6 separate regions of the Homo sapiens genome follow, and all the other regions are linked to region 3. The links come from fine-mapping of genetic effects on gene expression. A gene starts in region 3. Each other region holds a variant in brackets. All regions are shown on one strand. Distances are between the middles of the regions. Region 1 overlaps DDX60L (DExD/H-box 60 like). Region 2 overlaps DDX60L (DExD/H-box 60 like). Region 3 holds the start of DDX60L (DExD/H-box 60 like). Region 4 has its middle 14 kb from the start of DDX60. Region 5 overlaps DDX60L (DExD/H-box 60 like). Region 6 overlaps PALLD (palladin, cytoskeletal associated protein).

Region 1 (5,532 bases), 100 kb before region 3:
GGAATCATTTTATGGCTCCACTCTTTACTCTTAGTCTAGCTTCTTTCCATTTATTCTCCCCTAAAAGTTTCCCGCTATAAAATTGAAATTTGGAAGCTTAGTTACTTTGCAATACCAGTTACTCCTCAATCAAGAACAAATAATTGAAGCAAAGAATGATATTTGCAACGTCTGCTAGAACTTTCCGTAATGATGGAAATATTCTACCTCTACTGTGTCCAAAGTAGAAGCCACTAGCACTGGAAAGTTAACGTGACTAAAGCTAAAGTGACTAAAGAATTAACTTTTCAATTGTTTTATTTTTAATCAACTTAATTTAAATAGTGACACGTAGCTAGCTGGTGGCTACCATGTTGGGTAGAATAGACTTACGCGATGTTGACTATGTGCTATGCACTGTTTTAAGAAACTTATAAACATTAATATACCTAATCCTCTAAAATTCTGTAAGCTAGGTAATATTTTTAGTCATTTCATTTTACAGATTAAAAAAATGAGACACAGAAAGATTAAGTAACTGGCATGAGACCTCATGGTTAATAAGTAGCAGAGCCAGGATTTAGACCTTGGCATTCTGCTGCCAGTGTTCACATTTGTAACCACTATGCAACTGCCCCTCAGGGGAAAAAAATGCCAGAAATTATGCCGTTTTCTTTTTCATCTGTCACTTTTTCTGATCCAGTTTTCCAACCTGAACAGATAGGCAACTTTCCATCAAAATGGTTCATGAATGACTTTTATTTTTTTTCCTCCATTGCCCAATTAATATTTGGTAATTATAAAGTTTTTTTTTAATTGGAAAACAGAGCCATTATCACACCCTACAATGGGCTAAATTGTTTTCTGGGGATAAAACACTTGGGTTAGTACAGCTGCCCTGTAATAAGCTCCTTTACCAGCTTTGAAGCATCCAATATCCAGAGGCTTTCTTAACCAAGATTGTTTACTCTTTAAATTGTTCCGGAATGGAACTAAAATCTGCTTACTGATTCTTGACAAAGGGAGTTGATGCTCTTTTTTCATGTTCACCGACTTGGAAGCAATCAGCAGGAAGGAGGCAAAATCCTTCATTACTGCCAGGTTATACTCATATAAAGCAGCTTTAAAATCCTCCGGGAGTTCGGCAAGGATCACCTATGGGCGAAATACATTTCAGAAAGATCTCTTTACTTTTATTTAAAAAATTAAACTGCTTGGTGATAAGATTGCAGCATAGTTCTGTAGATTGATGCTCATTCATCAAAACCCTTGATTACTTTACTCACCTGTGAGATTAAGGTAAAATTTCCTTTTGATTTCAACCAACATTTATAAATGTAAGTATCTTTCCTTAAAAAAGTTATTTTGACTCCACTTAGCCAAAACCACCAATTTAATAGAAACATGTCCTACACTGATCTTAAACTTAGGTATATTTCAGAGACTTGAGGGACATATTTAGAGAGCAAGTAACAAGTTAGTGTAGCAGTAGTAGCGTCAATGCTTTATTGAGTTCAGATTATGTGCCAACACTGTGCTTTGCTGCCCCAAGCACTTGTTATATGTTAGCTCAGTTAATCCTGAGAACAACCCTATGCAGTAAACATTTTCATCTACATTTTGTACATGAGGGAGCTAACCCTCACAGAGGTAAACTTGTTCCAAACCTGACAGGTAGTAGATAGAGAAGTAGCTGGTATTGCAAGCTAACTCAGCTTCCAAATTTCATGTTTAAAAACAAATTCTTTCAGAATTAGGACTAGAAGTTTCTTTAGTGTGAGTTAGAAATAGCTATGACATTAGAAATGTTCTTGGTTTTCTTCTGTTACAATTATGGGTTTTATTATTTATTTGATATTTTCCTTAATTTATTCATAACCTGTACTTTTCCAATAATTGAGGTATTTTATAAGGGTAAAGATAATACAATATGATCATATAAATCAAAATTTGGTAAAAAGGAAAGAAAAACAAGAAAGAGACTAAAATGGGGCACAAATTATATTCCAAGATTCCTAGGAGCAAGTGTGAATGACACATTTCAGAATGTCTATGAGATAAACAGCTATTTATTCTCAGCACTAATATCAGGTAAGAATTTTCCAGGGGGATTCTTACAAAAGGCAACCGTGTGGACATAATAAAGAATGCCCCTACCAACTCCTTACAGTGGATAGTATGACAATTTCCACAAGCCTACTTCGGACTCAGCTCCATCTGTGGATGGACCAAGACAAAAGAATAAATTGACAGGTGCAGCTCTACACTCTGGTCAAAGTGATATGGTCTCTTTACTGCTATGCCTTCCATGTCCTGCCATTGTGCCACTGCTGGACACCGTTCTAGGGCAGCACGTGCTGCTTACCATGTACACCTTGTGTTGTTTGCCACCTTCTCGAATGTGTATGCTATACAGCCCCATCAGGAGAGCAAGCTCTTGGAAGGTAGCAACTATGTTTCCCAATCATGATTTTTGCTA[T/C]AGTTTACACATATTTATTGCTCAATAAATCTTTGCTAATTGACTAATATAGAGCAGTTATCCCAAATTATGGTACATAATATAAGAGGTACATGAGATGATTTAGTGTGACACACAGAACATTGAGTAATTATACATCAGTTTTAAAAAATAAAAAGTGGGCTGGGCATGGTGGCTCATGCCTGTAATCCCACCACTTTGGGAAGCCAAGGCGGGCGCATCACTTGAGGTCAGGAGTTTAAAACCAACCTGGCCAACCTGATGAAACCTCAACTGTACTAAAAATACAAAAAAATTAGCCAAGCGTGGTGGCGAAGCCTGTAATCCCAGCTACTTGGGAGGCTGAGGCAGGAGAATGGCTTGAACCTGGGAGGTGGAAGTTGCAGTGAGCTGAGATTGCGCCACTGCACTCTAGCCTGGGTGAGTGAGCAAGACTCTGTCTCAAATAAATAAATAAATAAATAAATAAATAAATAAATAAATAAATAAATAAAAATATCTTCTTTCCAGTCCTCTTCTATTCTTTCTGATAACCCTAGAAAGTCCAGAGGCAATAGACCACCATTGTTTCTCTAAAAGTTTATAATCTCTTTTTGTAGCAAAGAGAGAGAAGCTTCAGCTGAGAACCATGTTAACTGCATCTATTTTTATGGCTTCCTTAGTTTTGAAATCAAAGATCCTGGCTTTCTATTTACAGTAGTAGTAAATATGAAGTTTCCTTTTTAAATACTTTAAAATGTGTATGCATTTAAGAAAATGATTAACAGTTCCAGTGGTTTGCAATGTGGATATATGTCAGTAACTAAAATTGGGTGCTCAGGTCTGGAGGTATATCCAGAGGCATTGTGAGGTCAGAAAGCCTAGATTAATGCTAATTACCTTTTTGTTCTCTATTCACTAGGGTTACTGGATAGAAACAAGCTTCTTCTACATTCCCAGGTTCTAATGCACATTTTCTTGGGTTCTGTTTGCTTGTTATTATTTTGTTGTTGTGTCTTTAAAAAAATAAGAAATTGGAAACAAACAGTGTTACAAAAAAACTTAGAAAATAATTTTTCTTTCAGTCTCTCAACCCTTAAGTTAGGGGATTCTTTCTTAGGTGACCACCTCAATATTGTCTGAAGAGGACATTAGAGGTCATAATGTAATTCCTTCCCTGCACTCCCATCCCTAGCTGTAAACAATCCCAATGGAACTATAGGTTCAGCAGTAGGGCTGTCATTCTATTTAAATGACTATTTGTGTATGTAATCTCTGTTGCTACTGAATTACATAATTTGCTCCAATAAAGTGAAAAAACTTTAGGGATAAGAATTGTTTGTTAGATTAGCAGGGGAAGATGTTTGAACTAAAAATTAAATAGAACTCTAATTATGAAAAGACAACACTATTAAAACAAATGGAGTAGCTTATATTAATTTAACCCTATAGGTACTGAATGCTTTCCAGTAGCATACATTTAATAACTATCATTATTATATCATTGTAAGTATAACAAACTTTACCTTTGACTGAGAAAAACTTAAATTAGCATTTTGGAATTTTGCTGGAATATATTTTCTTCCAAACAAATTTGCCAATACTAACACGAGCTTTTCCATCACATCTTGGGAAAATTGTTGTGAGCCTATTGAAATAAAGAGCATTATTATAAATAAGAATAATGTTGATTCCATTTATTTTCTGCCTAAATTTGTTTTTATAGTACATTTCCTTTTGTTGAAGGCAAAATTTTCTAGCAAATATATACCTCAGAAATTGACCATATTTGCAATACTATGTGCACATTTATTTTTTTGGGTAAGACAGGAGATTTTATATTCTGTGCCTTGTTTTTCCATCCTTGCTATACCCGCCCTAGTTCCCACCCCAGAATGTTTACTAACTGGTTTCCTGACTTGCACTCTCCTTTCTTCAGGCCATCTTGAGAGTGATCAGCCTTTCCAAAGCATGAATATAAACATATCCCTCCTTTACTCAAAAACCTTTGAGGGTATCTCAACGGCTAATTGAAAAATCCAGGTTCCTTGGCCTGCTCTTTAGGGTGTTTCAAATCCTGTCAAAACAAAGCTTCCAAACTTACCTACCAACACTTCTAAACACTAGCTCTAGGTTCTGGTCATCTTGACCTACTCTCCACTCCCCATAACGCATGAGCACCATACTGTGGGCATTAAAAGGTGGCTAGGTTTAATTAACTGGGCTCTGAAGCATACTAAAATCATATGACCATCAGAAACTTATTGTCTTTCTATGCTTCTCCGTTTTCTCTTCTGCAAATATTCTTTATCAGTTAAGTAATATATAAGTAGCCCTCAAATACTCTTTATTAGAATAAATATCAGTTGACTTTTAGTGTCTAATTTTTTGGCATCTGTAAATCTGAACATATACTTAGTATTTATTTGCTTTAATAAATGAGAAGGAGGAAGAAGAGAAAAACATATCTGCGGTTTTGGCTATTCAATAAATATGTTGCCATTTTTCGACTACAGGTATAAAACCCAAGCTTACCTTTCCAGGCTGGCTTACAGAGATTATGGAAAAGGCCTCTCTTGAGAAAATTTACAAAAACAAGATTTGAAGGTTCATGACCATGCAAATATGATGCAAGTCCTGCAAATTTCTTTGGATTACCCTTTTTATTTAAATAGTCCTAAAAATGAGAAACAAAAAGTTGATTTAACTTGTCATGTACTCAAATACCATAAAATACCAGTGTGAGTGACTGACAAATATTACCTGACTTCATTTATTAATAAATGATAAGTAACATTATCATTGAATGCAGATTATAGAAATTTCAGTTGGTTTAGCATAGAAAGAAGTTTACACGGTACTAGTTACAGAGAACAAAAAGCCAAAGCACGATGATACCTCTTTGATAAGGAGCTGCAAGGAAAACAAAAAGTAAAGTTTCAAAGTCTCCATGGCTCTTCGTCTCTTAAAAGACAGCAATGAATGCTTTAGCACTGACAACACCTATAAAAGAAGAGTACTTTAATTTATCTAGTTTTAAACAGTATTTGTAAATACTGATATGTAATAAATAGTACACATACATACTATATAGA
Region 2 (5,532 bases), 50 kb before region 3:
GGGCCTCCCAGATCCCACTCGCTCTTTGGAGATTCATGTTGAAAAACACCAACGGTCTAAGCAGACATTAGTCAATGTGGGGAAAAAAACAGAAATCCCACTGGAAAATGGAGGAGTCACACACACTTAGTGGGGTGGTAATTTTTCCCACCTCTCCCCTAACTAGATCAAACATTTAATTCCCATTTTGCTTCTATTTCAGTGTGGAGGCTGCTCCTAGGCCTCACACTACCAACATAACAGAACTGAGTGAGCTCCCATCAGTTCCTGGCCCTGCAATTAGGGCTGCCAAAGGAGCAGAGGTGCACAGCCTGGGCCCCAGGAGCCAGCCTTGGGCACAGGGCTTGGCAAAGCAAAGGGCTCAGCTGGGTGAGGCCCTTGCACAAAGGCTGCAGAAGATGGTTGCTTCAGGATGCTGTATTCACTTTGATCCTTATGCTTGAAGCCAAGCCTGGACCTTTGCCTGAGCCAGCCCCACCTGGCCACCCTCAGCCCAGAGGAGGTTAGGTCTGTGGGCTGAGGTGGAGCCTCTGCAGTTGAAAGCATGTGTTGTGTGGCTGGATGGACCCTTAAATAGCTCTAGGAGAGAGACCCAACAGCAGTGCTAAGAAACCTACAGTGTAATCAGTGATAACTATTATCTAGAATGGCTTTGAGGAGATATCCTGTCACTGATTGTAGCCTTTGCAACTTCAGCCTGGTTAATGAATTGACGGTCTGGCAAGGAAAAGGAAGACTCTAGATCTCTGATTAACAATTTTCTGAAATTAGTGGGAAAGAGAAATGTTTTCATTTTTTGGATCTTTTCCTTGTGGGGCTTTTATGTTTCATTCTCCAAAAATATTCCCTTTCCTACTCCAGTTAGGGTAAGGCAGCCATGATAAGTGCCATTGGTCATCAATAGTTTGGTTTGTGCTCTTTCACGTATTTAGCATGGTTGACCTCAGGAAGGGGATTTACCAAAGCAAATAAATGTCTTTCCTTAATTCCCAACCATGAGGCTAAGAGAGAAGTACTGAAGCCTAATGAAATCCCCTCTGATGAAGAATGATCGCAAAGTAGTACCTTCCCAAGCAGAACCATAAAATCTACCGTTTGTTCAGTTATAAACACTATCATTTGTGTTACCTGATACTTTTCCACATTATCTTTTTAAATTTTTTTTGAATTACAGGGATTCTAAGTTTGTAAACAAGCATGGTCTAGTGTAAAGGCAGGAAGAGAAAGAAAATAGGTATGGAAGATTCCTACCCTTTCAAGAAGACCTGGTCTTACCTTTAATATAAACAAAAGTCCAGGACAGATTAATGGCATAAATGACTTAAAAACATGGACAGTTTTCCAAATTCAGGCAAAATAATGAAGCTGATGGAAATGTTAGGCCTATTTTTACCACCTCTATGTAAAAAGATTTTCACTGTAACAAACTAATATACAAAAATTCCTTTTCTTTTTTTTTTAGACAGAGTCTTGCTCTATCACCAAGGCTGGAGTGCAGTGACACGATCTTGGCTCACTGCAACCTCCACCTGCTGGGTTCAAGCAATTGTCCTACCTCAGCCTCCTGAGTAGCTGGGATTACAGGCACCCGCCACCATTCCTAGCTATTTTTTTATATTTTTAGAGGCGATAGGGTTTCACCACGTTGGCCAGCCAGGCTGGTGTCGAACTCCTGACCTCAGGTGATCCGCCCACCTTGGCCTCCCAAAGTGCTGGGATTACAGGTGTGAGCCACTGCACCCAGCCCACAAACATTTCTTTTAACTTAAATTTGACTTTTCTAAATCCAAGCTTGTAATTCTTTGATGCATTAAGCTTGTTATCAGATAAATCTATCTTTTCTTATTCTAAAAAAGATAGAATACTAGATTTTATGTAATCTTCTTAGGATTTCTAATGGCAAGCAAGTAAAATAACTCATTTGTAAGTGATATGATTTGGGTCTGTGGCCCCACCAAATCTTATGTCGAATTGTAATCTCCAGCATTGGAAGCTGGGCCTGATGGGAGGTGACTGCATCATGGGGAGGGGGTTTCCGATAAATGGTTAACACCATCCCACTTGGTGCTGTTCTCATGATAGTGAATGAGTGACTTGTGCAAGATCTGGTTGTTTAAAAGTATGTAGCACCTCCCCAACACTTCCTCCTACTCCAGTCATGTGAAGTGCCATCTCCCCCTTTGTCTTCTATCATGATTATAAGTTCCCTGAAGGCTGGGTGTGGTGGCTCACACCTGTAATCCCAGCACTTTGGGAGGCCAAGGTGGGTGGATCACCTGAGGTCGGGAGTTCGAGACCAGCCTGGCCAACAGGAAGAAACCCTGTGTCTACTAAAAATACCAAGAATTAGCCGGGCCTGGTGGTGGGTGCTTGTAATCCCAGCTACTTGGGAGGCTGAGGAAGAAGAATTGCTTCAACCCGGGAGGCGGAGGTTGCAGTGAGCCAAGATCGTGTCACTGCACTTCAGCCTGGGCAACAAGAGCGAAACTCCATCTCAGAAAAGAAAAAGAAAAAGAAAAAGAAGTTCCCTGAGGCCCAGAAGCTGATGCCACCACAGTTTCTGTACAGCCTGCAGAACTGTGAGCCAATTAAACCTTTTTTCTTTATAAATTACCCAATCGCAGGTATATCTTTCTAGCAATGTGAGAATGGACTAAGACAGTTAGCAAACATGAGAAAGAAGAGAATGGAAGACACCTCCAGAGACAAATATGAGCCTAAAGAAAACAAAACAACATCAAAGAAAAAAATTAGGTAAAATCTTTGCGATCTACCTGTAATATTTCACCACTGGCACCACTGGAATCCTCCTTTGGCCGAGTAGTTTGAGTCACAATGACTTTCGTAGAGATTGATTCTAACGATTTCCCATAAAATTGCTGATAATCCTGAATCTTTTTCAGGAAATCAAGAACATGAGGATCTCTAGATTGTTCTGAAATAGAAAGACTTAAAATGTAAACATGTATTTTAAAATATTGCTATATATGTGTGCTACCCACACATTATTTTTTTAACTCCAGAATAATAATTCAGTATTTGCCAATGAGGTCAGATTACCATACGCTAACAAAATAATTCCCTATATTATTTGAAGAAGAGAGAGGACGAAGCTCTGCTAATGTCCGGGTCTAAGTACCTGGACATTGCCCCTGTCATTTGGCAGGAGAAGAGGAGAAGAGGAAGGTTGGGGGCAGTCTAATAGCACATTCACCTGCAACAGGGGTCTACAAACTAGGTCCACATGATCAAATCTGATGAGTACATTTTTTAAAATTGGTTACACTCTAAATGATTATATGAGTACCTACATCATGCTGTCAATTTTGGTCTCTTGGTTTGCAAAGCCTAAAATATTTATTACTTAGACCTTTCAGAAAAAGTTTGTTGACTCCGGACCTAAAACATTCTGTT[T/C]GCACTCCTAAAAAGGAAAACCTCTACTTCTGGTCCCAGTCAAATATTTAGGAGCTTACAGCTGACAGATGCTGATACCAATTACCTTACACCATGCAAAAATTCAAATGACACAGAAAATTCCCAGGAAGCAAGGCTAGATTCACTTGAGACCTAGGAACACTCTTTACAAACATAAAAGATATAAATAAGCTAGTGTTTTGTTGTTTTGGATGTTGTTGCTTTTTCCGTGTCTGTGTATGTGATCACAAATCAAACCACTCTGGAAACACACCATGCAGAATCTTCGTAGACACTTACATAAATAGCTTATTCCTATATGCAATTGGCATACTTACTTGACTTATTTCTAGATCCTTCTGAAAAGTTTTACCAGTTCTGCAATGAGAACACATGGACACAGGAAGGGGAACATCACACTCTGGGGACTGTTGTGCGGTGGGGGGTGGGGGGAGGGATAGCATTAAGAGATATACCTAATGCTAAATGACGAGTTAATGGGTGCAGCACACCAGCATGGCACATGTATACATATGTAACTAACCTGCACATTGTGCACATGTACCCTAAAACTTAAAGTATAATAATAATAAAATAAAATAAAAAGAAAAGTTTTACTAGTTCTGAAAAGGGTGGAAATAAACATCGGATTGGAGAAAGACACTAAAAGAATGAACCAGGAAAAAAAGATCTATGAATTCCTTTCCTTAGGACCCATTTTTAATTGTTTCATGGGCTTTACTTTTTGTAGATTCAACTCCTCCTCATTACTGAGTTTTCATGGGCACAATTATGCTGGTACTTGGCAGCATGCAATCAACTAGACAATAGTTTAGCAGGAAAAGAGCTAAAATGTTAGGAAGACTATGGCTGTATCAGCATATTTACTTCAAGGTATAGACAGATTCCTAAAACCATCAAGTATCTTTCCCACTTAAACAGCATCTGATATTTTCATGACAATACCATGCATATGTACATCCTTAAAAGATTAATAAATCTCTATTTGAATTAACAGATACATCTGCATGCATACGTACATATGCACACCAGATAATATAATGGGATTTTTTTCAGACAGCATGCTTCCTACTGTGCCTCTTCAATTAATATATATATATATATTGTGTGTGTGTGTGTATATATATATACACACATATATGTATAGTATATATTGTATATAGAGATCTCATTCAAAATATATATTATATATAATATATAGATAGATCTCATTCAAAATAGAACGTGTTTACAATGTAATATCTTTTCACTGTTAATAAAAAGAGCAGCAAAGGCAATTCATATAAGCTCTATTTTATCGTGGTTACAGAGCTCACCATCAACATGACATTTGATCCTGTCATAGTCGTCACTAAGGAGTCTTTGAGCATGCCAGTGCAAAAGTTCATCAGATGTCTTTTGTTTAAACAGTGAAGGAACAACCGGATCATCACTGTAAAAATAAATACATAATTTTTTTAAATTTTAAGCTTTTCAAATTTTAGCACAAACTTCAGGCTGTGATAACAGAAATTGTACAACCTCTTTTTCTATTTGTGTGATATAATGTGGGTCATAAAACCTCAGAGACATAAAAACCCTGAATTTCTGCCATTCCTGTAACAGTCACATCCACATCAACAACAATGTAGTAAACTTTATAGCTGGAGTAATTTTATTATACGTTCAAAATAATATAGATTTTTATATAGTAATGTTCAAATAATATTGACATACTAGATGTTACAATCACTTAAATGTATTATAGTCACATTATATAGAATTTACCATATCCTGATATGATATATTACATAGACATTTTGATGAGTCATTCACTTCACTAGTATTTTCAAGTTGATGGCACTAAATCAGGTACTTCATTAACTCTGTACCTCTTTAGAATAGGCAAATCCTTCATCATATCTCCAACAAACTCATCAATTACAGCAGATGTCATTGGAATAAAGCCCACACTAGGCATCTTTTCCAAGGAGATTTCTGAAAACAAATATAAATTTAAGATGAGAGGAAAGGTGTAACTATCCTATATGAATTTTGAACATTATTTTTAAAATTTCAAATGCATAATATTTTACATAAATTTTACTAATGTTTACC
Region 3 (5,532 bases):
GCTGGACACAGCGCCTCATACCTATAATCCCAGCCCTTTGGGAAGCTGATGTGGGAGGACTGCTCAAGGCCAAGAGTTGGAGACCAACCTGGGCAACAAAATGAGACCACATCCCTATTTTAAAAAGGAAGGGAAGCGAAGGGGAGGGGAGGGGAGGGGAAAAGAGGAGAAGAAGGAAGGGAGCCAAGAAATTTGGGTCGCACAGGTGACAGCTTCTGTACTGCAAATAAAAAGTGATAGGACAAAAAAAAAAGAAAAAAAACACCTTGCTCAACAAAGACTCATAAAGAATTCTCAGTTAAACAGAAGGACTTAGCCTTGCTGCAAGTATTAGGTGGAGGTGTTACCCTCCCAGGCCAGACTATCATTTCAAATGAACTTAAGACAGATTATGCTAATTTGAGAGGGAATTAGGATGAAAATAGAAACTCTCTGGGTGTAATTAACGGCATAGGGAACTAACTAGAGCATAAGAAGCTGGATACATTTCTTAGAGAATTGTATTTCCAAATAAACTATGAGCTGCCTTAAAAATGGTTACATCAGTAAAACAAGCAGCAGGTTATAAAAAAGGGTGATATCAGTAAATCAACCAGCAGGTCTCCATACTTACAAAGCAGAAAATGAGCCTGCAGCAGGGAAAACCACAGAGATTTCCACCCACATCAACATAGCCGTGGATGATAATTAACATGGGTATTTTATTAAAAGCCATAAAGCTAATCCTGAGAAGAATTTTTAAAAATATATAATTCATATTAGAAGTATTTCTTTCACAGGGAGTCGTCGGAGTCTGTCTAAAGTAGATAAAACAAAAGACTGATTTGTAAGCATATAATTTATAAGCAACCAAGAAAGAAATGTATATCTTTGGAGTGGTAACGCCTCAGGAGAACTAAAACTGTGAGACTAAGTATGAAGGGGAAAGTAGTAGAGAAGGGCATTTAATTTTTGTTTTATGTCTTTCTCTTCTGCTTCAAATAAAACTGATCAATTATGACCCAGCATACCATGGGGTATCATACAGCAATTACTAAGTAAGACTGACAGGTACCAATAAATCATGAACCAAGAAAAGCATACCAGTATGACAGCCAAAATATCTTTTAAAGTGTATGGATCTAGAGATAGACAGATGATGGATCGATGGATGGACGGATGGTTGGATGGCTGGATGATGGATGGATGGATGGATGGATGGATGGATGGATGGATGGATAGAGAGATAGGAGCTATAGACAAAAACTTGTCTCTTTGTAGAGTATCAGGAAGGATTCACACTAAACTATCCCCAATATCTTTGGGATAGAAGGCGAAGAGCCTTGGAAGCATAACTCACCCTCATTTATTTTAGTACCCTCAACTCTCAGCACCTGAGTTCCACCAAACTTCAAACTGCAAATCTTAGATTGAATGGTATGTTACTGTTTTCAGGAGAACACTCGAAATCATGAAGGTCTGTATGTCGTTGATGTTATGGTTTGGACTTCTTATTGTGTCTTTAAAGGACTTGCTTCTGTTTGGTTCTGACCGCTTTTTCTAGCAGTCATTAGGAGCTTTCATAATCCTTAAGGCCCCATCACGGATGATGTCAGCTTCTTTGATTATGGAAAACCTTGAGAAGTTTATTATAAATTTATCAATGTAACTTTGTAAACAAAAGAGAAGCGGGAAAAAAGAACAAAGTACCTTTCCAGAGAAATAGTAAAACCTTATTTCCGCTATTAAGAGCTTAAATCCGGCCGGGCGCGGTGGCTCACGCCTGTAATCCCAGCACTTTGGGCGGCCTAGGCGGGCGGGTCACGAGGTCAGGAGATCGAGACCATCCTGGCCTAACATGGTGAAACCCCGTCTCTACTAAAAATAAAAAATAAAAAATAAAAAAAAATTAGCCGGGCGTGGTGGCGGGTGCCTGTAGTCCCAGCTACTCGGGAGGTTGAGGCAGGAGAATAGCGTGAACCCGGAAGGTGGAGGTTGCAGTGAGCAGAGATAACGCCACTGCACTCCAGCCTGGGCGACAGAGCGAGACTGACTCAAAAAAAAAAAAAAAAAAAAAGCTTAAATACAAGACGGAAAAAAGGGAAGCGGCTTGCTGCCTGTCAATGTCCAGGTTCGAATGGCTGTGCTCAGATGTGGTGACCCTTACTTTCTCCTCAGCACCCCAGATCCCCAGGCCCCCTCGGGTGCAGAGGACCCGTTAAATGCCTGAGCACTCTCCTCTCTCACGGTGGTTGTCCCTCTTCCCTACCTCTCCGCGAAGCTGCCGCCCGAGCCCAGTGGGCGCCCCAGCTTCCCTCGCCCGGCGCGCACGAAGCCACCAGGCCACCTCCCCGCCCGGTCCATCTGGATGTTGAAGGAATCCTAGAACCCCCGCGGGACAGCTCCGCTCCAGGGTCCCTAGCGACACCCGACGTCACCCGCAATCCTCACCCCGGCCGCCGAACCTGCTAGGTCCAAAGAGCTTCGGAGCTGCACGCCCCGCGGGGAGGAGGTGGAGCAGAGGAGACCGAGCGCAGAGCCTGGCGTCGGACTGGGCGCTCTGAGCCACACAGCAGCCAGCGCCTGAGTTTTTATCTAGGGAGTTAGTTTCGGTTTCTTTTCTCCACCGCGAGGCCTTTTCGATTTCCGCAGTTTTCTGGAGGTAGAATATAGGTCTGCATTGGTTTACTCTGAGAATCTTAGGGAAGTAATAGTAGAAGCGATGATATGCTATCTGGGACATGCATGTAATTGTAAAGGGAAAGAAAGCAGAGAAATCTGGGACTCTAAACAAGGAATTGAGGCTGAGAGTAAATGCAGCACGCTAAGCACTATGAAAGTCTGCGGTGAGGTGTGGCGTTTTTCTTTTCTGGCAAGGTACTGGACAGGCAAAAATGGAGTAAAAAAGGATTAGGGGCTTTGAGTTTCTGTCCTAAGAAGTTCATTTTATGAAAAATTTCCAATAGTATAACTGTCCAGTGTGAACATTTGAAAGACCAATCATCTATCACAGAGAATTTAAATTGAGAAGAAGAATGCTCTTTAGTTTTGTCATCAAGCTCATTAATGTTTGAAATTCGAGTTTCAACCCCAGCCCATCATGGTCTTTAGTGCTCCAGACGCTTAATTCCATGACGTTATGCATGTGCAGAATATATTGAGATTCAAGGTGGTGGTGAGGGTGCCCCAGTAACGGCATGGGGTAATAAATGGAGAGAAATCGAAACCGGAAGTTCTGTCTTCAAGAAAAGGAAAGGGTGGAAGTGACTTGTTCACAATAGAAAGAGCCCAGAAGAACAAAGTTTTTTCTCAGACTCTGGAATATAAAGTGGCTTCGAAAAGGAGGTGAAAACATTGCTCACTTCTGTCAGGATTTTTCTTTAATTTTATGTTTGGTTGAAAATAGTTATGATTCTCTTTCTCAATGAGGATGACATTGAGAAAGAACCTGAAATGACTCATGATTAAGTCATGAGTTCATCTCAGATGAATTCCTCTCTAGCATCTGATACTGGACCTTTGTATCATAAGAATGCATTTGCTAGCAGCAGAAAATTGGGCTTTGCTGTAAAAGCATTCATTGAGCTTTTTATGTGCCAGGCAATAGGCTAAGCCCTTAACATGTATTATCACATTAAATCTCACAGAAATCCCATGAGCAACTTTACTGTTGCTATTTTATGGATGAGGTAAATAAGGCTTAGAGAATTCAATTACTTGTCGATGACCCTACAGGTAGTTAATGGTAGCCAAGACTTCAAAATTTAATTCCAAAGATAATATCTACAATATTCTCTGTATATATTATCTCATTCCAGTTCTTTTAAATACTACAGTGTCATTATTCCTCCCCCAAAGCACATACAATTTAATGGGGATTTCCTCTTTTGGTTGTAGAAGTGGGCCCTACATGTTCTTAATATAATTGACTGTCTGCTGTTGTTTTTCTCTCTTAAAGATATAGATGTATCAGGTGGGGATTCCCTAGATGTTAACTCCACACATCCCACTTCCCACCGCAAAGTATATGTACAATGCACATAAGCAGACTCTACTCCAAATCAATATCCAGTTCTCTTCCACTTTAATAATATGTTACCATAACTCCAGCCTGGACATTATCCAGAAACTTGAAAATCATAAACTCCATTTCCACTTTTTAGAGACTTCCCCCTTGCCTCAATCTCTCAGTCTCCTTAGGAGCCCCACTCTTTCACCTCCCCAGGATCAACTCTGTGAACAGGCACTGAACCTTCCTCTCACTAACATTCTCAACTGCTTCATCCACTCTCTTTCCTCTGCACCTTCACTGCAACTTGATCACCTCAATCTAGTAAACCATTTTTTGCCCTTACCAGGACATTGAAGGAAATTGTCTAATATTTTTCACCTCAGATTTACTGTTTATGACTATAGGTTCCTGATCTTTTTTACAGTGGCCCTTAAAACCCTACAGCATCTTGCTGTTCTCTTCAAGTCCACTAAGAATATATCTGTTTTAAAGAGACTCCTTTTAACTGTCTGACACCTCCATCTAGTCCAAGAAGCCCATGACATGCTCCACATACAATATAACCACTCCCTTTTGAGTTGGTTACCTCCAGCTTCCTCAGGAATCTCACTCCATTCCTATATTGTTAACCTCTCTCTATTTACAGCTGTGGTAGACTGAATAATGGTCTCCCAAAGACATCTATGTCCTAATCCTTGTACCTATAAATATGTCATCTTCTGTTGCAAAAAGAACTTTGCAGATATTCCTAAGAATCTTGAGATGGGGAAATTACCCTGGATTATCTGGGGACCTGATATAATCAGAAGGGTCCTTATAAGAGGGAAGGACTATTATCAAAAAGGAACCAGGACAAGGATAATGTGGGAAATTATCAGGATTTCAAGACTGCAAAGGATGGTAAAAGTAAGAGACTCACTGCTGGGAAAACGTACTCTGGAGAAAAAGTCATGAGTACAGCTGGACAACCTTTTGCTAGTGCTTCAAAAAGATCTCTGTGACATACACAGGAAATCCAAAAGATTTCTGAGAATATCAGCAGAAACACTGCCAGCTTGAACTGAAAGGTACAGAGAGAGAATAAAATGAAAGACGGTTATAGGACTCCCAAAATTCCATAAGCAATAAACAGTCTGATAAAACTATTCAGCCCCAAACTTGTGCTATCTTTCATGAAGGATGACTCTGAGGGCAGAGCCTAGAGACACAAATGGTTATTCACAGGCCTTAAAACCTATGGAGTTAGCCTTGCAGATTTTTGAAATTTCTTGGCTTTTTCTCCTTCCATTTTCTCCCTTTGTGAACAGGAATATCTGTAACTGGTACCCTATTCCTGTTCCACCATTGTATTTTTGGAGCAAATAACTTGTTTTCTAGTCTTAAAGCTTCACATATGGAGAGAAATTTTGCCTCAGGATGGTTCATACCCAAAGTCTCAACTATACCTGATTTAATCATTTAGGTCTTTTCAGCAGATGAGATTTAGATGGGATTTTTGGACTTAAGTTGATACTACAATAGATTAGGACTTTGGGGGGACC
Region 4 (5,532 bases), 150 kb before region 3:
GATGAGAGAGGGCATTCTTGGGATTACGTTTATTGATTTGCATGTGTTGAACCAGCCTTGCATCCCAGGGGATGAAGCTGACTTTGTAATTGTGTATGTTTCATGAAGTTCTTGTGCTGTGTTTTTCAGCTCCATCAGGTCATTTATGTTCCTCTCTAAACTGCTTATTCTAGTTAGCAGTTTCTGTAACCTTTTATCAAGGTTCTTAGCTTTCTTGTCTTGGGTTAGAATATGCTCCTTTAGTTCAGAGGAGTTTGTTACTACCCACCTTTTGAAGCCTACTTCTATCAATTCTTCAGTCTCACTGTCTGTCATTTTTTGCTCTTGTTGGAGAGGAATTGTGATCATTTGGACGAGAAGAGGCATTCTGGTTTTTGGAATTTTCAGCATTTTTGCTCTGGTTTTTCCTCATCTCTGTGGATTTGTCTACCTTTGATCTTTGAGGGTGATGATATTTGGATGGGGTTTTTGTTTAGGGGTTCTTTATATTGATGTTGATGTTGTTGCTGTTTGTTAGTTTTTCTTCTAACAGTCAGGCCCCTCTTCTGCAGATCTGCTGCAGTTTGCTGGATGTCCACTCCAGATCCTGTTTGCCCGGGTATCACCAGTGGAGGCTGCAGAACACCAAAGATTGCTGCCTACTCCTTCCTCTGGAAGCTTCATCTCAGAGGGGCACTGGCCTGATGCCAGCAAAAGCTCTCCTGTTTGAGGTGTCTGTCAACCCCTGTCGGGGGATTTCTCCCAGTCAGGAGGCATGGGGGTCAGGGACCCACTTGAGGATGCAGTCTGTCACTTAGCAGAGCTGGTGAACTGTACTGGGAGAATCCCTCTTGTCAGAATCAGCTGCTCTCTTCAGAGCCAGCAGGCAGGAAAGATTAAATCCGCTGAAGCTGTGCCCACAGCCACCCCTTCCCCCAAGTGCTCTGTCCCAGGGAGATGAGGGTTTTGTCTGTAAGCCCCTGACTGGGGCTGTTACCTTTCCTTCAGAGATGCCCTGCCTAGTAAGAAGGAATCTACACAAGCAATCTGGCCACAATCTCTTTGCCATGCCCAGCCCAGACCTCCCAGCCTCCTTAGCACTGCCAGGGGGAAACTGCACACTCAAGCCACAGTAACGGCAAATGCCCTTCCCCCTAATAGGCTCGAGCGTCCCAGGTCGACTTCAGACTGCTGTGCTGGCAGCGAGAATTTCAAGCCAGTGGATTTTAGCTTGCTGGCCTCCGTGGAGATGGGATCCACTGAGTGAGACCACTTGACTCCCTGGCCTCAGCCCCCTTTCCAGGGGAGTGAACAGTTCTGTCTTGCTGGGGTTCCAGGTGCCACTGGGGTATGAAATAAAACTCCTGCAGCTAGCTCGGTGTCTGCCCAAACAGCCACCCCATTTTGTGCTTGAAACCCAGGGCCCTGGTGGTATAGGCACCCGAGGGAATCTCCTGGTCTGCAGACTGCAAAAACCATGGGGAAAGTGTAGTAACCGGGTAGGGTAGCACAGTCCCTCATGGCTTCCCTTGGCTGGGGGAGGGAGGTCTCCCAGCTTCTTGCACTTCCGGGATGAAGCGATGCCCCACCCTGCTTCTGCTCGCCTTCTGTGGGTTGGATCCGCTGCCTAACCAGTCCCATTGAGATGAACTGGGTACCTCAGTTGGAAATGCAGAAGTCATCCTCCTTCTGCATTGTCCTCGCTGGAAGCCGCCGACCAAAGCTGTTCCTATTTGGCCATCTTGGCCGCTCCTCAAGACAACATTTTTAAAAAATGGCTTTCAGATGGGGGTCTCACTGTGTTGCCCAGGCTGTACCGAAACTCCTGCACTCAAAGGATCCTCCCACCTCAGCCTCCCAAGGAGCTGGGTCTATGGGCGCACACCACCAGCCTAACCTGACAGCATCTAAAAAAACTAATTTGTAACACTGTATTACTTTCCAGGCACTAACCTCATCCTCAATGAATCAGTCTAACTTTGTTATAATAACTTAAGAGTCTTAGTCTGGTGTAAATTTTCTAAGGAAGAGAAGTTCTGTATTTCATATTCCTGTATTGCAATATTTTTTAACAGGTATTTTCTTCTCCACTCTGTACAGAATGAAAGAAATGTCATGTTGCATTATGTTTTTTGATGAAATCATATCCAGTTTTCAGACCTTTCAGGAGAATAAGCTTTTTTTTC[CTTT/C]TTTTTTTTTTTTTGTTCTTATGAATTTCTTCCTTCACTGGCCTTATACCCGGATTTACGGGCCAGGGAACCCAGGCAAATTTCAGGGAGGCCTCCTCTGGTCGGTAGTCCACTGCGGTTCACCATGAGACTCATTGTTCTAATCCCCATGGTCCATTACAAAGAAGAGGCACCCACTACTTTCACTGCAGCTTCCAAGGCCATGATGCTTAATGCTGAGTGCTCAGGAGTCTATGTCCAGGCCTGCTATGCCTTGACACTGTTCTGTCCTGCATGAGTGTCCTGGCCAATCACAGAACCCACCACCCACCTGCTTTTCCAGGCTCTGAGAACTCAACTCCTTCTCAGGCTAAGACCAGCATCTTCCTCTAGAAGCACAAGCCCCATCTGATGCTTCTAGAATTATTTCCATCATACGTATAAAACTGTATCATTTTGAGGGTTTTTACACCTATACTTGCAATTTTTTTATTCTTATAATTCAGAAATACAAAGTGAATTTCTCTCTGAGATAGAGGAAGTCTACTTATAATAAGACTTAGCTAGACTTCCTGAGAGGTAGAAGGGAAAACTTGTATTTTTTTAACACACCTTAAGAGGAAGGGAAACATTTTTTATTCATTTTAAAATGTCGGCCAGGCACAGTGGCTCATGCCTGTAATCCCAGCACTTTGGGAGGCCGAGGGAGGTGGATCACCTGAGATCGGGAGTTTGAGACCAGCCTGACCAACATGGAGAAACCCCATCTCTACTAAAAATACAAAATAAGCCAGGCGTAGTGGCGCATGCCTGTAATCCCAGCTACTTGGGAGGCTAAGGCAGGAGAATCGCTTGAACCCGGGAGGCAGAGGTTGCGGTGAGCGGAGATTGCACCATTGCACTCTAGCCTGGGCAACAAGAGCGAAAACTCCGTCTCAAAAAAAAAAAAAAAAAAAAAAAAAGAGTCAACAACAGCAAAAAGAAATGAGTAAGGTTTTATTAAAGGAAATATTAAATAGTGAGCATTTCTTCAGCACTGCATTGAGATGGGGTTGTAAAGTTTACCTAAGATTTATCAAAGTTACTGCCTGGGTGCAGTTCACTCTGGAGAAAAAAAAACCTGGTGAGACTCTGAGATCTGTACTATTCATTCAATAATAAAACATCGGAGGGAGGTGGGGAGGGTTAATGGGTACAAAAAAATTAGAAAGAATGAATAAGACCTAGTATTTGCTAGCACAACAGGGTGACTATAGTCAATAATAATTTAATTGTACATTTTAAAATAACTAAAAGAGTATAATTGGATTGTCTGTAAGACAAAAGATAAATGCTTGAGGGGGTGATATCCAATTTTCTGTGATGTGATTATTACATATTGCATGCCTGTACCAAACTATCTCATGTAGCCCATAAGTATATACCTACTATGTACCCACAAAAATTAAAAATAAATTTTTAAAATTAAATAAAACATTTGAAAACATTAACTTGATGGTAGATTTATATAATTTAATTGTTAAGAGAAAAAGCATCTATTTTATTTAAAAATTAATAATATATTGTATATATGATATTATTCACCATTTATCTAATTAATCCTGTTATTCCACTCCCTAATGCTCACACCACCACCAAGATTTTTCCAATGTTAATATTTTTACATATTGTACCATATCTTGTGTGAAGAAATAAAATTACAAGCACAGTTGAAGCTCTTATTTTCCCTTCCTCAATCCAATTCCCCAGACCTCTTCCAGTGATTCATCTGCTGTCTTCTAGGATGTGCGTTCTTAGGTCTGAAGGCTTCCGGATTAGTTTTTCTGGAGAAAAGTGGGGATGGGAAAGTAGGGTCTAACTGCACCTTAGGGATTCTTTCATCCTGGTTTGAAGCCCCTAACTCACTACATATATCCATAGTTTGCCAATTAACAGTATTTGTAAGGAAGTGACTGGTGCCTCCAATTCCTGAGCCTCCCTGGGCTCTAAGACAAATCGTTTGCATGTCATCAGCATCTCTTTCTGAAGGGGTTTCAGTTTTGATTTGCTCTGCTCTTCAATTTAGTTACATCACTACTTCATCTGTTTACCATTTCCAACAACCTTGTTGATTTCCAGCATATTTTACTATCTCTTACTCCAATCTTTGTCCTGTTAGGTTTGTATTATGATATTTGTGATGTTTTCAAAAGAAAAATCATATGTTAAATCAGCCAAGCTCACTTAGAAACTTGTTTAAATAAGAAGCTGGATCAAGTGTGATGATAAAGTATCATATAAATAAAAGACTCAGTACTTCAATTCCAAGTTAACATAACAAAGAATTTTTCATTATAGTTTCACCCTTTAGATATGGTTCTGCTACCAGACACTGGGACAGCCATGATTTTTGTTCTATTTACCTATATTTGCTATTTGGAGGATTAAAACATTAGACTACATTAAACACAGACTCTACAGAATAGGTAATATGGGTCTTGTGGGGTCATTTTGACAACTAAAGAAAAGACTTATCCTTGTTATGAACAAGTGTCCTACCCTACAGGCTATATTTAATTCTAGCATCTTCTGCTGTTGTATGATCTAGTACCCATTAACAATATGAAGAAATCTTTGACATTAGTCTTATATTTATATTATTTATAAGTATTCACAATCTCATTTATAATGTTGTTAATAGATGAAAAAATGGAACGTTGAGTCATTATCAACTGAATTAAATCAATATGTAGAGATAATTGCTTGGGCTTTTCATTTTAAGCCTAGATACAATCTTAGATTGCCCCAAATTAAAGGTATACAGTATAAAAATATGTAAGTTAGGTTCGTCCATTCATCCATTTAGTTATTCTTCCAACAAACATTTCTTGGACGCTTGATGTATTAGGAACTGATCTGAGAAATCAATGTATGACTTCAACCAGAGGTGTCCAATCTTTTGGCTTCCCTGGGCCACACTAGAAGAGGAAGAATTGTCTTGGGCCACACATAAAATATACTAATACTAATGAGAGCTGATGAGCTAAAAAAAAAAATCACAAAAAAAATCTCATAATGTTTTAAGAAAGTTTACAAATTTGTGTTGGGCCACATTCAAAGCCATCCTGGGCCACAGGTTGGGAAAACTTGGCTTAAACCCAGTCCCTATATGATTCCTGACAATCAATTTGATTTTCTTGTTATGAGCTATGTCTGTAATATTCATCAACATTGATGACCACTTTTACCTAACAATGTGAGTAAAACAGGTAGCTATTTTATAATAGTTACTGGGTTACTACGTTAAGATAATCTACCACTTGAGTAAAATTTAAATGCACATAGAAGATCATAGGAAGAAGAGCTTTCATTGGAGTGTCACTTCTTCTACTTGGAATCACATACT
Region 5 (5,532 bases), 24 kb before region 3:
AGAATGAAGAGTAATATCTACAAACCCATGGCAGGTTCAGGGTGAGAAATCCCGGATGGCAATCTATCTGTAAAACGTATTGAATGAGAAATCGGGGAAGGAAATGGTCAAGTTTCACCTCCTGTGGCAGAGACTTCAGAACTATTTTCGAATATATAAAAGGTTGTCATATGGAAGGTTAAAAAAACCTTAATCTGGGTATCTTCATAGAGCAAAATTAGGGATAACTGAAATTACAAGGAGATTGATTTGGGTTCAATATGTTCATTTTTTTAAATTAGAACCACCAAAAACATCGTGCATGGTCATTTGAAAATATTTTTCCAAAAACAATTAGGCAAATAGAGTAAAGGAGATTCAAATGAGACAGTGATCCCTAGCCATCTCTAAATCATGTGAGAAAGAAGCAAATTAAATTAATCAATATGAACTTTTGTGAGAAATCAGCTTTTATACCCAGAACCCTATGATGGGTGCTATTCACACTCCCACCCACGGCACATCTTCAGCATAACATAAAAGTGAATATATTAAGGTAATTATCATTTTTAAGCATGCTCTTAAAATTCTGACAATCATGCTGAAATAAAGTTTCTAAGTTCTTCATTTTTTACTGTTTATCTTCAAAATTTAAGTATTCAAATTCACAATTTTAGAGAAATCTACATAGCTAAGATCTACTGTACTACATACTAAATTAAAATATTGGAGTGCTCTGTCTCCTACATTAAAAAGACTATTGCACAGTAATTCAGGATCTGGGCTCTGAAAACCGTCTAACTCCAGTCAAGACACTGTATGAGTCAGTTCTCCTATATGTATAAAATTGGGATAGTAACAGTACACTTTCTCATAGGGTTTCTGGAAAAACGTGAAATATCTAGAATATCACCAATACACAGTAAGCCCTAAATGTTACCTATTATTAGCTAGTCTTCATAACATCCCAGCTCTGTAGGTTGAAAGCAGCTATTAGCACACATTAGACAATCAATATCCTTAGCTAAGGGAATTAATAAATGTGTTATCAGTCAAGAGAAAGTCAAAGATGGGAAATTCAAACTAAGGAAAGAATCAAGAAGGAAGAAGCATAAAATGCTCACTGCTCTCTCCATTCTCCATTCTCCATGGTGCTCCCGAAGAGTAAACAGCTTCCTTTTTTTTTTTTTTTTTTTTTAGCAGCTAGAAGAATGTTGTTGTCATTTGTTGGGATGGAGAAGAGTGAGGCAGAAGCAGGTTTGGGGAGTTTGGTTCCAGAAATCCTAAATTTGAGATGTCTATTACAAATCCAAGTGAAAATGTTGAGTTGGTGGTTCAGACTAGAGGTCTGAAATTCCTCTAGTTATTTCAAAGGGACATTAAAATTGCCTTCCAAGATATGTATGATCAGTGGGGGTAGATATCATGTCTATTTCTTCTCTCTCTCCAAATATATTTATTTTTGGCATATATATTACCATGCACAAAGTAAATATTTTATGAAAACATGCTGATAGATTTAAGAAATGGACAATTTTCTCCTATAGAATACTAACTTCTTGAGCCCTGTACAGTCACATTATTTCTTTCTTTTTCTTTTTCTTTTTTTTTCTATTTCTTTTATTGCTGTTTGTTTTAAGAACAGAGTTTTCAGCCTGAAACACACCAATATCTAGACTGCATACAAACTTTGTGTGTGTGTGTGTGTGTGTGTGTGTGTACTTATGCAAGCAGGGATGCATATAGTAGAGCGGAAAATCCATGTTCCTCAAAAGATTCCTAAAGGGCCCTATAAGCTGAAAACAATTATAAAAATTCAGGATCTCTATAGTCTCAGTGACACTAATAAACAATAACAGAACTGTTCTTTTAAATACACAACTTAACAGAGCAGAATCATTACAAGCTGTGGAGCCAACCATCCTAGTCAAAATCCAGGCTGCCTTTTACCATGTGATTTTAGGTAGGTTAGGGAAGTCTTGGTCTCAAAGTCTTGAATCGACAGGAGAGAGTGATAATTGCTATACTGAAAAGTTGTAAGATTACATGGTGTCAGGTAACACAAAGACCCTGAAACACAGCGTATAGTGGGGCCCCTCCTCCAATTTGTTTCTTTTCCTCTTCCTCCTCACTTTCTCTGTTTTTTAGAAGAACTGGGCCAAATAACTACTAAGTGAAACACCAGATAAAACTTGCTGTACATTGTATTTTAAGAAAAACACTAAATTACGTAACATAATATTTTCTTATGTATACAGATTCTAATTTTTCTCCCCTTTTTGGTATTTAATACACATAAATTGGTGGGGGAAGGGGCTAAATTCCTAATGAAGAAAATGGCGGTCAGAAACCAAGAGTATGTCCACAGTGGAGAACCTGATGCCACCAGTGAAGTTATACCAGTTACACCTGATGAATGACAGCTTTCTGCCTGGCGGCTGTGTTCTTTTTACTTACTAAGACACGATGGTACATTCTCAAGGATAGTGAACATGAAGTGACACAGAGAACACGCTGGATGTCCGATCCTTCTGACCATAGGTGCTGAAGCAGAAATAGAGTCTGATACGCCTATCAAAAAAGAAATTTCTTCAAATGTCAAATTATTTAGAAATATTCTTTTACTCAGAAGTGCTCTTACTTGTAAGAAACATAAAGAAAACGATTGTATAGATTTGACTAAACGGAACTTCAAATGTTTAGTTTAAAAATGTATGATCATTTTAATGATAGAAAATTGAAAAATAATTACAACCAATATGCCAGAGAAATATGAAAACCTAAATA[T/G]GTAAAGAAATTAAATAATAAGAAATTAAGATTTAGTAAAACATGAACTGATTCACAAAGAAGGAAATAGATTATTAATAAAAATAAAATCATCCCATTTTACTAAAAATCAGAGAAGTATATGTTAAAACAAAAATTAGCTTGTTATAAATATCAATAATATCAAAAATTTTAAAATAATATCACACAACATTGAAAATTGTGTGGTGAGTCACCTCTCTTACAGATTAAAGATAAAAGTACAGGTAGGTATAGAATTTCTGCAAAGCTCTTTGACAACGTCCATCAGGATCATTAAATATGTTGATGCCTTATGATCCAGTTTTGAATTTCTGGGAATTTAGCACAGAGGAATAATAACCCAATATGTATACAAAAAACATATACATCAAAATGTTCATTATAACATTATTTATATGAGCCAAAATTTTGAAGTAATTTAAGTGTCTAGCATTAAGAAAATATAATGCACTCATTAGATACTACATTTATGAAAAATTCTTAATGACAAGAAAATATGCAATAATCTTAATGAAATGTACACTAAAAATATATATACAGTCTGGGCATGGTGGCTCACAGCTATAATCCCAAGACTTTGGGAGGCCAAGGTAGGAGGATCACTTGAGCCCAGGAGTTCAAGACCAGCCTGGGTAACAAAGTGAGACACCATCTCTATATAAAATAAAAATTAAAAATTAGGCAGGCATGGTGGCATATGCCTGTGGGTCCAGCTACTCAGGAGGCTGAGGTGGGAGGATCACCTGAGCCTGGGAGGTCAAGGCTGCAGTGATCCATGATTGTGTCACTGCACTCCAGAATGGGCAACAGAGTGAGGCCTTGTCTGAAAAAAAAACAAAACAAAACACCAAAAACATATATATAAACTACATACACACACACACACACACACACACACACACATACACACACACACACACACAATATGTCCTCAGCTACACAAAAATATATGTTAAAACGCTAATATCAAGAAGTGGAATTATGGATATTCTTACTACTTTTGTGTTTTTTTCCAAACTTTCTTATGCAACCACCTTTTACCGCTTGAGCATCAGAAAAAAAAAAAAAGAAAGAGGTGCTTAGTAATCCATCATGATAAATAGTAGTATAAAGCATAGCTTGAGAAGATAATCAGAAAATTAGACTTAAGGTATAATTAATTCCACATTTTGACTGTTTATATGGCAAATGATATCTTAGAGCCCTCCTCAATTTGAATACTGGAAAATAAACATTACTGTTGCATTAAGTACTACAATTTTCTAGTTTCCCAGAGTCTGTTTTAAAATATGGCTTCCGGAAATGAATATAAAATTACATATGCCATCCGATGAATTCAAGGTACTCTGAGAGCATGACATTCTAAGATTCAGATAGTATACATGTACTAAGGAGGTATATGGCACCCTTTAGTCTGGTCTAAGGACTGAACTAATCACAAGTTCATTCTCATTTACCAAATTCTATCAAACTTTTATTTAAAGAAATAAAAATTTTAATACCTCTTCCATCATATCATTCCATTTCAAATGTTCAAAATGAGTTGCTAATACTAAAACCCTTATTTCTTCCAAGTGTTGTATGAGGCTTTTATATGCACTCTGAATCACTGTTTCATTCTGTAAAAGGGAGAAAACCATATAAAATATCTTAAATAAAGTATTTCCCAGCTGTAAAATATGAGACACTTGAGGCAAATCAAAACCACAATGAGATATTATCTCATGCTGGTCAGAATGGCGATTACTAAAAAGTCAAGAAACAACATATGCTGGCGAGTTTGTAGAGAAATACGAATGCTTATACACTGTTGGTGGGGATGAAATTAGTTCAACCATTATGGAAGACAGTGTGGCAATTCCTCAAAGACTTAGAACCAGAAATACCATTTGACCCAGCAATCCTATTACTGGGTATATACCCAAAGGAATATAAATCATTCTATTATAAAGATACATGCATAAGTATGTTCACTGCAGCACTACTCACAATAGCAAAGACATGAAATCAACCCAAATGCCCATCAATCATAGATTGGATAAAGAAAATGTGGTACATATATTCCATGGAATACTATGCAGCTGTGAAAAGGAACAACATCATGTCCTTCACAGGGACATGGATGGAGCTCGAAGCCATTATCCTCAGCAAACTAACGCAGGACCAGACAACCAAACACCACATGTTCTCACTTATAAGTGGGAGCTGAACAATGAGAACACATGGACACAGGGAAAGGAACAACACACACTAGGGCCTGTTGGGGGAACGGGGGAGGGAGAGCATCAGGATAAATAACTAATGCGTGCAGGGTTTAATACCTAGGTGATGGGTTGATAGGTGCAGCAAACCACCATGGCACACATTTACCTATGTAACAAACCTGCATGTTCTGCGCATGTATCCCAGAATTTAAAATAAAGTTAAATTAATTTTTTTAGTGAGACATTTGAATTCTACATTTGTTATAAGGTATACTAAGTAAAATCACCCTCATATGTCTTTAGGACAATTTTTCTTAAGCTCTGATAAACATGCATATTTCCTCTTTGACAAATTAATTTTTATTTCAGAATATAATGAACTGTCTTGGTATTATGGAGCTTTCAAAAATATAGAAACTTAGAGAAGGTAGTATGGACCCCCAATCCTGAACAATTATCAACATATAATACATCTATAATATTTATTGAGACTAATTTAAACAGTCCAAAGGGGGTGAGAAAAATAACTTCTTTTAGGGAA
Region 6 (5,532 bases), 28 kb after region 3:
ACAAATTTTGCAGAGAATCTCATGTTTCTCTCTCTCTCCCTTTCTCTCTTACCGCCCCCCATGCCCCAACACACATACACCCTTTGTTACTTCTCTCCTTTAACAATGAAAGAACTGCCCCCTTCCTACTGGAAGCTGAACACCTCATACTCCGTTTGTCCTATAATAACTCATTTCTTCTTACATCTTTTGAGAGCTGACCTATAAATCATCCCCGCTTTTTTACATTTATTTTCAGCTTCTCCCTTCTTACTGCCTAATTTGGTTTGTATAAAACATGTTACAGCGCTCTATCCTAAAAATGAACAAACCTCACCAGAGTCTATACTTTTGTTCAACTACTACCTTCTGTCTCTCCTTCTTTCTATGATCTTTTCAAAACAAACCACCACACCTGTAATATTTTCTTTCTTTCCTTCTTTCCTTTCCTTCCATGTAGCAATCTGGCTTATATTTCTGTTGCATACACCGAAAGTGCTGTTGCAATGGTGCTAAATATTCCCAAGTTGCTAAAATCAAAAATCAAAAGGACATGTACTGCTTCCTGAGATATTTTCTTTCCCAGCTTCCACGATATCTAGCTTTTCTTGCTTCCCTGTGATTATTCGAAGGATTCTATCTTCTCCTTCTTTTTTCCTCGATGACCTTATGCATTCCCATGTCTTAAAGTGCCACCCATAGGCTAATAATCCCCAATCCAGCTCTGTTCTCCCTTCTCCTGGGCTCTAGATCAGCATCTCAAATCTCCTAGACATCAACACCAGAGTTACCAAAGGTCCCTCAACTGCAAAAGGCTCAAATCAAAATCAAGCTTAAAAAATAAAATAAAATAAAATAAAAAAACTTGTTCCTCCACTTGTAGCATGTAAGTTAATGGTACCAGTCATCTGGTTGTTGAGGTGAGAAACCTGTAACCCTGCCTCTGCATCACCTCTGCCTTTAATCAATTACCAAGTTCTTTCCTTTCTATCATCTATCTTATGGACCCTGGACCCACTGCTTCCCTGAATCACCAGCTCTCACTTCAGAGTCCAAGAAGGACACATCTAATCGCTGTCTAGGCCAAGTGCCAAGACTTGTGCCCAGTCTCCAAGCGGCTGGGAAAGAAAATACTTGGAGATTTCACATCCCATTACAAGTGAGTTCAGTTTCTCACTGAGCCTCAGAATATGAGGAATTCTCCAAAATGAAGACGTCCAGATGACAGCAACACCAAACGTGAAACCATGATAAATGTGTGCACCCCCTGGATTACTGCACAAGCCTTCTCACGGACCGCCCTACTGTCAGTCTTGTCTTCCTCTTTCCCTACCTCTGTCCCGGATCCAGACTGCAATCAGTTATCTCTCAAAAATGTAAGTCTGGTGATGTTTCTCAAGGACTTAACACTCTTCCTTGCCTACTGACTACCCATAACATAAAATGCAAGTTCTCTGCATGGCTCCAGGCCCTCTCTGACCTAACTCCTGCTTTCTAGCCTTATCTCTGGTTATTTTCCCATCTCCAGATAGATTTCTGTTTAGCTGAAATGCTTAGTAGAATTACCTGAGTCTGCCATGTGCTCTCTGGGATCCAAGTCTTAAAATACATATTTGCCAGTATCCTCTTCACCTCCCCGCTCTTCCTCATCCCTCACACATCATTCTTTCAGCTTTCTCTCTTTCACAAAGGTTTCCTGATCCTGACCTTGCTGTTGCTTCTAGGTGCTATCACAGCACTTTGTTTTTCTATACCACTGCAGGATGACTATAGCTAACAATAACATACTCTATAGTTTCAAATGGCTAGAAGGAAGATGTTGAATGTTCCCAACACAAAGAAATCATAAATGTTAGAGATGAATATGCTAGTTGCCCTGATCTGATCACTATAAATTGTACGTATTGAAACATCACTAGGTACCCCATAATTATGTATAATTATTATTTGTCAATTTAAAAAATAAAATACAATTTAAAAAAAGACATACTCAATTATATAAGCTTATTATTTAGTTGTAATTTGTATTAAGTTCCATGAGGGCAAAAACCTTCTCTTTTTCAAGGTCATATCCCCGTCCCTAGCGCACTACCAGGCATGTGGTAGATAGTCCATAAATACACTTCGAGTGGGTAATTCTGGTCCATGTAGTACATCTATCCCAGCTTAGGCTTCACAATTTCGTCATGTCAAGAATCAAAGGTTTTGTTGCAATTATTTCCTTGGATTTTCAGCTTAATCTACCACAGGTTTGGTTGACACAAAATGTTTTTCAATCTCCTTTAGCACTGATTTCAACACAAAAACTGAATTTCTTTCAGGCCATAATAAATAAATAAATAACAAATAAAAAACACAGTAGCTTTCTTTCAAAGAAAAATAAATTTTACAAGAAATGCAATAAATGAAAATATAGTCTGTTGTGCCTTTGGTACACAAACCTACTTTCAGCCCCCGAGTCTCCCCCTCTCCACCTTCATGTCTCTTCTGGATCCATGTTACCTAATGGCTCATCTCCCCACACCTTGTAAGAGTTGATCCTGATCCTGGCTTCCCCTAAAGTTATCTACCATGTGTGCTGACTGAGGGGCCAATTGTACTTCAGAGCTCATTACTGAGAGAAACCAGGCTGCCTTGGTAGGACAAACTATAAAACGTTTTGCAATATACAAAATGGTACTGGGTGTCCTTGCAATAGACACCCAGTACCATTGCTGGA[T/C]TGGCTCTGGTGGACGTTCCAGGGTCATCTAATTCCACAGGGGTCTATGCCTTTTATTGTCTTTACAATTTTACAACTCTGTAAGTTGGAAAAATCTAAAAACAATGCAAATTATACTGGTGCATAGATATACAAATGATTTTTTTTCTAGTAGAAATGCTATAGTTTTCCACTCTTATGATTCCAAACATTGTATTTTATTGCTCTATAGATATTAACCAGTTTCAAATCTATTACCAACTTCATATCAGCATGCCTGATTGCCTACATGTGTCTCATCTTCAGCGTCTCCTTTGAAATAATTGTAATATATTACTGATTTTTTCAATTGTTAAATAAAAGCTCAAATACATGTTATTTGATTTTTATATATTACTATACCTTTGCCTTTTCAAAATCATACTTTAACTGCCTGTTTCTCATGAAGAAAATACATTCAAGTATTAAAAATACACTGAATATAATTGTTCCTCATATACGAGCCATATCTGAATAACTGGAGACCAGTCAGGATGTTTCTATCCTGCAGCACAGACTGGACAAAGGAATTAGAGTGATATTTGGGTTAGTAAAGTCAGGGAGAATGATGACACCCTCTGAAGGATTAAGGATTTACTTGAAGAAGAGTGCGAAATATGGTTCAGTAGATAGAGTAGGGCTAGCATGTGGTGAATCTAATAATTCAGGCACAAAAAAAGTAACTATCTTTCTAAGAAGACATGTAAGACAAAAGTACAGTATTCCACTTAAGAAGATGGGGTATGTTAACATTGAGTTTCAGGATCTCTGATTAACTACCCTCTGTTAAACAGCAGGTCTATGACTCACTGCATCCAGTGAAGCAGTAGGCTCTTGAGCTGGATTTCTACAACCCCCTCGACTCTTGCATAATGTATTTTGAAATTAGAGATTTTCTTAGATGGGAAGATACTTCTACGCAAGCAACTCAATTCAGTCCTCTGAAGACACACCATTTCTGGGGAATGTCCCACCAAGTTTACTCCTGACTGACACAAGGTAGAAAGTTGAGGTTCACCACATCCAGGAAGCTTCCATTATTCACTCCTAGACTCAGTCTTGTGGCAGACATCACCGCTGATGTTTTCTAGATCGTCCCTCTCAGTACTCTATGAACAATATATAGCAAAAGAATGGCACACTTAGAGTAACAAGGAGTCATTGCTTCACAATATAAAGTTCAAAATGTCAGTGGAATTTAAAGCTGTAATAGCTTACAGATAATGAAATACCTTTTATTTAATTCTGCTGATATTCCCATGTAAGTGTTCTATGCCAGGCCTCTAGTTATCTCATGCCCTTTAAGATTAGATTAGACTCTCATAGCCCCCAGGTTTTTCTCACTTTCCTTAAAAGCCTTATCAAAATTTTATATTATTAACATATTATTTGTTTAATATCTTCTCTATCTCCTCCACTTTACTACCTCCCATGACTTTTAACTCCTTGAACATGATAACTGTGCTGTAAGTCTGGATGAAGGGTCAGCAAATTTCAGCCCCTGAGCCAAATCCATCCCAACCCTTTTTGTATGCCCTGCAAACTAAGAATGTTTTTCTCATTTTAAAACTATTGTTTAAAAATTAAATATCAAAATAATAATAGTTTTAACACATTAAAATGATATAAAATTCAAATATGAGTGTCCATAAAGTTTTATTGGCACACAGTCATGCTCATTCATTTCCATCATCTTTGGCTGGTTTCATGCTCATGCAGAGTTGAGTAATTATAATAGAGGCTGAACAGCTCACAAAGTCAAGAGTATCTACCATCTGGCCCTTTCCAGAAAAGTTTGCCCATCCCTGGCATACAGCACAGCTGTACTTCCAGCACCTGAAATTTAATAAGTGATTATTACCATCTGTTGGACTGTTGAGTGAATGAATATGAATGCACATAACTGGAGACAATAAAGTTTCAAAGATTTCACTGAAAACTATAAATAAATGAAAATTGGAATCCTTAAAATGCATTTTGTGGTTTAGGGTTGGATAATCAGAGTCAGATTTACTAAAAATATCAATATTCTATTGATCTCATTACATTAATCAATTAGAGTTTGAGTAAGGTGGGCGGGGGGCTGACTGTGAGCCCTATCCTACTAATAGTGCCTACTGCACACATCATCTTTTTGAATGATTTAATACTGCCTAGTGAGATATTTGATAGCACTCACAGGGCATGTATTAAAATCATAAAATGATCAACACAAGTATACTTGATATTTCTTCCAACTTGTAAAATAAAGAAAACTTATATTCATTCACTTTAATGTTTCTCCCAATTTGTGACTTACAAGTTTTATGATTAAAATGGGGAAAAAATCATTGCTACTAATGACATTCTATGCTGTCTTTCAGAACACAGTTTCAGAAAACAGTTTCCAGTGCCTCTGGCCTTCCTACTGAAAGCAGACACAGAGTGCATGAAGACCGTTCAAATATGTCAGGGACCTCCTCCCATGAGTCCTTCTATGACTCCCTCTCAGACATGCAGGAAGAAAGCAAGAATACTGACTTCTTCCCGGGCCTTTCTGCTTTCCTCAGCCAGGAAGAGATAAACAAGAGTCTTGACCTGGCCCGGAGAGCCATAGCCGACTCCGAAACAGAAGATTTTGACTCGGAAAAGGAGATCTCGCAGATTTTCAGTACTTCTCCTGCAAGCCTCTGTGAACATCCTTCCCATAAGGAGACCAAATTGGGTGAACACGCCTCGAGGAGACCTCAGGATAACAGGTCAACACCTGTCCAGCCTCTGGCAGAGAAACAAACTAAGAGTATCTCTTCACCTGTTTCAAAGAGGAAACCTGCCAT

The links. PIP is the estimated chance that this variant, and not a neighbour inherited with it, causes the effect. A credible set is the group of variants that fine-mapping cannot tell apart.
Region 1: its variant is the best candidate, but not a certain one, in a credible set for the expression of DDX60L in whole blood (TOPMed, PIP 0.68).
Region 2: its variant is the best candidate, but not a certain one, in a credible set for the expression of DDX60L in monocytes after Pam3CSK4 (Quach 2016, PIP 0.87).
Region 4: its variant is the best candidate, but not a certain one, in a credible set for the expression of DDX60L in whole blood (INTERVAL, PIP 0.59).
Region 5: its variant is the best candidate, but not a certain one, in a credible set for the expression of DDX60L in whole blood (INTERVAL, PIP 0.74).
Region 6: its variant is fine-mapped to the expression of DDX60L in whole blood (INTERVAL, PIP 0.92). The same link has a PIP of 0.9 or more in monocytes after interferon gamma.

What each region holds. Positions count from the first base shown.
Region 1 is chr4:168,374,391-168,379,922 of GRCh38, forward strand. DDX60L (DExD/H-box 60 like) reads right to left here. Exons shown (of 38, transcript NM_001012967.3): 31 at 5,336-5,440; 32 at 4,973-5,114; 33 at 3,964-4,085; 34 at 987-1,134. Among named protein-coding and RNA genes, the nearest start is that of DDX60, 58 kb to the left of the region's middle. RefSeq lists enhancers at 2,192-2,361, 4,825-4,994. The variant T/C (reference allele first, on the strand shown) is at 2,459.
Region 2 is chr4:168,427,704-168,433,235 of GRCh38, forward strand. It overlaps DDX60L (DExD/H-box 60 like), which reads right to left. Exons shown (of 38, transcript NM_001012967.3): 11 at 5,307-5,412; 12 at 4,752-4,867; 13 at 2,775-2,935. Among named protein-coding and RNA genes, the nearest start is that of DDX60L, 50 kb to the right of the region's middle. The variant T/C (reference allele first, on the strand shown) is at 3,415.
Region 3 is chr4:168,477,947-168,483,478 of GRCh38, forward strand. DDX60L (DExD/H-box 60 like) reads right to left here and starts at 2,546. Exons shown (of 38, transcript NM_001012967.3): 1 at 2,431-2,546. RefSeq lists an enhancer at 2,565-2,804.
Region 4 is chr4:168,330,081-168,335,612 of GRCh38, forward strand. No RefSeq gene overlaps it. Among named protein-coding and RNA genes, the nearest start is that of DDX60, 14 kb to the left of the region's middle. The variant CTTT/C (reference allele first, on the strand shown) is at 2,166.
Region 5 is chr4:168,453,603-168,459,134 of GRCh38, forward strand. It overlaps DDX60L (DExD/H-box 60 like), which reads right to left. Exons shown (of 38, transcript NM_001012967.3): 6 at 4,290-4,406; 7 at 2,437-2,550. Among named protein-coding and RNA genes, the nearest start is that of DDX60L, 24 kb to the right of the region's middle. The variant T/G (reference allele first, on the strand shown) is at 2,767.
Region 6 is chr4:168,506,344-168,511,875 of GRCh38, forward strand. It overlaps PALLD (palladin, cytoskeletal associated protein), which reads left to right. Exons shown (of 22, transcript NM_001166108.2): 2 at 5,080-5,532. The coding sequence starts at 5,162. The region is part of intron 1 of LOC107986198 (a long non-coding RNA gene); the gene reads right to left. Among named protein-coding and RNA genes, the nearest start is that of PALLD, 12 kb to the left of the region's middle. The variant T/C (reference allele first, on the strand shown) is at 2,699.